2 separate regions of the Homo sapiens genome follow, and region 2 is linked to region 1. A link means that fine-mapping ties the variant in region 1 to the expression of a gene that starts in the linked region. Tissue or cell type: whole blood. Region 1 holds a variant in brackets; the other region holds the start of a gene. All regions are shown on one strand. Distances are from middle to middle.

Region 1 (3,035 bases):
TCAGTGGGTTAACTTTTGAAAGGAAAAATGAGCTGTCCAGGTTTCTGTAGCCTGGGAATAAAAGGGAGGAAGAGTATCACACTAGTTGGATTCTACTTGCATGCTGTAATCTGTAACCTACAAAACTGCTTCTTTTCGAATTAATGTATTCAGAGCACCAGAAACATTTTTCCAGAGGGAATAACCATGTAGGATGTTAGTTTTTGCTTTTTGTTTTTGTTTTTGTTTTTTTTTTTTTAAACAAAACAAAACAAAAAAACCAACTTATTCACCAGAGGATTGGTCTCTAATATTTTACCCCTGTGGATTTGTTTTTACCTTTTAAATACGTTACTAGTATTTTTATAAAATAAAACGAATCTGACCTAAAACATTAAAATGACATTTTTCTTTCCTTTCCCTTCTCTTTTATAAATGTTAGAAAAGTAATATATGCTTGTTGTAGCAAATCCAAACAATACAGAAGTTTATAAAATAAAAAATGAGGCTGGGAGTGGTGGCTCATGCCTGTAATCCCAGGACTTTGGGAGGCCAAGGCGAGAGGATCACTGGAGCTCAGGAGTTTGAGACCAGCCTGGGCAACATGGCGACACCCCGTGTCTACAAAAAATACAAAAATAAATAAATAAATAAGTCAGGCATGGTGGTGCATGCCTGTAGTCCCGGCTACTCAGCAGATTGAGATGGGAGGATCACCTGAGCCCGGGAAGTGGAGGCTGCAGCGAGTCATGATTGTACCACTGCACTTCAGCCTGGGCAATAGGAGTGAGACCCTGTCTCAAAAAATAAATAAATAGCTACTCAGGAAGCTGAGGCAGGAGAATCACTTGAACCCAGGAGGTGGAGGTTGCAGTGAGCCGAGAACGTACCACTGTACTCCAGCCTGGGAGACAGGGCAAGACTCCATTTCAAAAAAATAAATAAAAATAAATGAATAAATGAATAAATAAATAAATAAAGTGAACATTTTCTCTTAGTTCTCCACACCCCAAATTCCATTTCTCCAGTAATAACTTTTAAATTTTGATGTGTATCTTTCTTTTGTATGTATATGTAGATATATGTTTATGTATAATTGAAAAAGTAAAAATCAGATCATACTAATATATAATTATTTGGTAGCTTGCTTTCTGCCAACTTCCCAGTATATTATGGACTCATTTCCAAGAGATTTACTTCATCTTTATTAACAGTACCATAGTATTCCACTGTCTAGTATACTATAAGTGATCTATATACCAATAATGAATACTTAAGGTTGTTTCAAATCTTTTATTATTAGAAAAGTGCTGCCAGAAACATCCTTGCCATGCTTCTGTATGTACTGGTGCTAGTGTTTCTATCAGATAAATTTTTAGACATGAAGTGAATTACTAGGCATAGGAAATATAATTTACACTTTTGATAGATACTGAGTTTTTGCTCATTTGCTACATGAA[A/G]CAGAGGCAGAGTATTCTGTGTGGGGTTTGGGACAGGAACACTGACCCCTGAAGTCGAGCCTGGGGGTCTAACATAGTGGTCATTTGTCCAGCCTGTTTTATGGAAGGAACTGGACTCTGAGCTTTGGGGAATTTCCTGCAAGATAAATGTATATCCCACCTATACTGGTAACAGGTAAGTTATGCGCAAAGATGAAAAGACAAAGCCCTAGCTAGATCAGCTCTTGCTCTCAGCACTACAATGGCCAGCGGTAATTCTTTCAGTTAAAATGACAATTAATACAGTTTCATTGAAGCTTCAAACAGAGCAGCCAGATCCTCTTCTGACTGGGGACAGGGTGCAAGCTTGGTGACCCTTTCCTGAAACAGTAAATGAAAGAAGTTACCCAGGGCTTTGAAAAGGCAGTTTGTAAAAGCTACAAAGTTATGGAAATTAACTTGGTCATAAGAATCAATGACTTGATAAACGCCATATCTTTAAAAACGGTATTTCTTGTATACTTCATATGAGTTGATCCCCATCTCAGAGGTTTATCACATCATACCTCTTTCCCCACAGAGCTTTCGAAAGCCACTGCCCCTTGCCTTACGCCCTGGCAACAGCCTTCTGCCGAAACCAATCTTGGGGAAAACACCCTTATCATGACAAAACTAGGTCAGTCAACCACCTCTGCCAGGTTCTCTGTACACACAGAGCTCTGAGAGAGAACTGGGTCGTCCCCGAAGTCTAAGACCATGTATTTTGCAACTTGGACTTAAGGCATATTCAAAAGGACTTCAGTAGAACATTAATGTTCATGCTATGTGCAACAAGTGACTCCGTTTTTTTCTATTAACTAAGGTTTTATCTCTATGTTCCCAAGCAAATCCAGTGATTTGTTAATTTCTCCAATGATTATTGAGTCAATTCAGCGAAGACATCCAGCACATCCTACTTCTATTTATACTCTGGTCAGTAGCTTCTCGGGGACAGGGGCTAAAATGTACAGCGATGACTCCCCTGGCACCTGCATGAAACTGAGGAATGTCCATTTTGAGGTTCCATTTTCATGGGTCTCTGGGCATGTTTTCTATTGCTGGCATGTGTTTGGGAGTGTAGCTAGTGGAAGGGAAACTTGTGAGGCCAGGGGCTCAGCTGTGTGCACTGCTCTCTGCCCTGCGCCTACCAGAGGGCTTTACATAGTAAGTAGATGCTCAACAGTTATCTGCTGAATTAGTGAAGATGGTGGGGAGGGGGATACTGGAGTCTCAAAGTTCACATATACAAGATAGAACTCTGACTCTCCCACCCCACCGCTCCTACCATTTTCTCATCTCAGAAATGACACCCAGTAGCTCAGGCAAAACCCAGGAGCCACACTTGATTCCCCTTTCCCTTGCTCTGCAAGTTCAACTCATCAGCAGGAGTGTCAGTCCTACTTCCAAAATGAAGCCCCAGTCAGAGCGCTTCTCACCTCCTGTGGTACCACAACCGGAATCCAGGACACTGCTATCACTCGCCTGTCCAGCTTGAGAAGCTTCCTGAAAGGTCTGTTTCCACTTTTGCTCCATTCTTGCCCCCCAGAGGTCATTCTCCCCACAGCAGCCAAAGTGATT
Region 2 (2,500 bases), 36 kb after region 1:
AGCACACAATTCAAATTCCTTACTACAGGCCTAAGAACAAGGACTGTGAAGCCAGAGTATCTGGGTTCAAATTATGACTGTGCCATTTGCTTAGCTGTGTGACACTGGACAAATTCTTCTCCATGCCTTTATTTCCGTATCTATGAGGATGACAATACCGTGTGTCATAGGGTCAGTGAAAGGATTAGAGTTACTATTATACTGATAGTCCATTCAAAGTGTGTAAGACACTGCCGGGCTCATCGTATTAGCTATATTCTTATTCATGGTCTTTTATCAGCCGTCTTCTCCATCTTTACCTCCTCTTATAAAGGTAGGTCTACTTGTCTTTTGTGTCCTGGGACTGCATCTCCATCGCTGGTGTTGCTCTTCTCTCTGCCTGACGTTCCTCGCCAGTCCCTCGCCTTTCCTCCTACTGATCTGCACCTGTGAGCTCAAACTTTTCCATGTTTCCCAGGCAGACTTGTGCACTTGCACAGTCAGCAAGTATTTATCAGGTGACCAGGATGTACCTCACATTTCTGCTGGGAGGCAGGCGTGTCATGACATTGAATACCCTGACTCCCTGTACATGCCAGGAAGTGTGACTCTGCGACTTCTCACATCCATCCTTCCCTTCTACACCCAGTCTGCTATAGCCGGTTTTAGCCTCGTCCCCTCATCCCATTCCCCACTAGACCTCAAACTGCTCCAGAGCCTTTCATCTTTGTATCCCCAGAACCTAGAATAGTTTTTGGCACATAATATATGCCCAATAAATATGTGTCAATTGCATACATGAATTTGTCTTGGCCACCGTGCCAAGCTCTCCACTGCCTGCTACGATGTGGGACCAGGTCCTCTCTGGGCCTCAGTTTCTTTAACGGTAGACAAGCAGAGTAAAGGCTGCCTCACTGCGCCCTGAGAGGCTGCATCGCGCACTCTGTGACCTCGCTGTTCCGCCTGGCGCGCGGTGGGAGCCCAGGGCGGTATCCAAATTCTCCGAATTCTTGAAAGTAAGCGGAGAAGACTGCGCAGGATCTGAGCGGGTCACACCCAGGGGGCTGCGTGGGCACCCTGCGGTCCCCTGCCCGCCCGCCGGCCCCGCACTCACGCTGCGCGTTGCAGTTGCCTCAGCAAGTACGCGACCCGGGCTCGGGCGGCAGCGGCCATGGCGCTTGGAGTCCTCTTCCCTCCTCGGGTCGCTACACCGCCCCCTCCGCCGGCCAATCACGGAGGCTGCCCGCCTCCCGCCCCTCGGCCGCGCCTGCCCACCCGCTTCGCGGGGTCACCTGTCTAAGCCTCAAGCCAGTCGGGCTCAGGGCCATTTTCCCACGGAGTAAGAACCAGAACGCCAGCTGCCCCAGCGGCGCTCGCACCATCCACCCTTGAAATTGCCGTAGAAGGTAACTGCTCCGTAGGCCTCGGGTTCTGCCTTAAATCTCCTTACTTATCAACTCTATTTTTCACATGTTGAGGACTTGGGGGAAGGAAGAGGAACAGGGATATTCTTTTTCCACTGTTAATCCTTTAAAATGTTACTTTCCCTTCTAAGAGTATTTTAAGTGATCAAGACCCTGCCTTTAAACTGTTTTAACAGTAAACAAGAACCTAGCAGAGCCCGAGGGTTTTTGTTAAATACTGTGTGAATGGCTTTGCTTTTGATGAAAGCAAAATCAATAGTTAAAACTCTTACATCAATAGTTAAAACTTGCCATGATTAGACTATGCTCCGGGAGGGCTTGGCTGTGCCATATCTGCCATGTCCCAGTGGAAAAGCTGATTAACGATAAAGCTCAACTTTATCAGAAAGTATCCAAAGACAGTAACAACTAAACATTTGCATTTTTAGTAATCTGTTATTATGAAATCTGAATCCTTTATGGGAGATATTAAGTTTTACAGAAATGAATTTACTGCGATCAAACTGGAAAAGATTGATGGACAGGAAGACCAAGGACAGCTATATAAACATTTCACCTCCTAATCAAACCAGCTCAGGCCAACTTGACAAATGAATCAAAAAATAATGTTCTATGAGAACACATGTACACAGGGAGGGGAACAACACACATTGGGGCCTGGGGGCAGGGGATAGAAGGGGGCAGAGGGACTTAATACTTAGGTGATGGGTTGATAGGTGCAGCAAGCCACCACAGCACACGTTTACCTATGTAACAAACATGCACATCCTGCACATCTACTCCGGAACTTAAAAAAAGATAATAATGTCCTAATTAAGGATCTTATGGGTCTGTTTCTTTCTTCCCCCAAACAAAACTATACCTGACGTCAAGCTTAAAAACAAACACACACACACAAACAACTGGGGATATAAACGTAGAGAAAGATTTAAGTGTTTTCTGGATTAATGAGGATTATTACCATTAGTCAATGAAGCCCAAATTGATCATTTACAGGAAATCCATGTGTTCAGTGTTGAAAGGCATAAAATCTTTTTAAAAAACAGACATCAGTTTTACTACTTTGAATATTATATTTGATACCAAAAGAAGTATAA

The links. PIP is the estimated chance that this variant, and not a neighbour inherited with it, causes the effect.
Region 2: it holds the start of ADHFE1, and the variant in region 1 is fine-mapped to the expression of ADHFE1 in whole blood (INTERVAL, PIP above 0.99).

The regions. Positions count from the first base shown.
Region 1 is chr8:66,467,033-66,470,067 of GRCh38, reverse strand. ADHFE1 (alcohol dehydrogenase iron containing 1) reads right to left here. Exons shown (of 14, transcript NM_144650.3): 14 at 1,161-1,799. The coding sequence ends at 1,716. Among named protein-coding and RNA genes, the nearest start is that of VXN, 25 kb to the left of the region's middle. The variant A/G (reference allele first, on the strand shown) is at 1,440.
Region 2 is chr8:66,431,169-66,433,668 of GRCh38, reverse strand. ADHFE1 (alcohol dehydrogenase iron containing 1) reads right to left here and starts at 1,165. Exons shown (of 14, transcript NM_144650.3): 1 at 1,094-1,165. The coding sequence starts at 1,152. It overlaps LOC102724687 (a long non-coding RNA gene), which reads left to right and starts at 1,303. Exons shown (of 5, transcript XR_929013.3): 1 at 1,303-1,385. RefSeq lists a silencer at 912-1,331.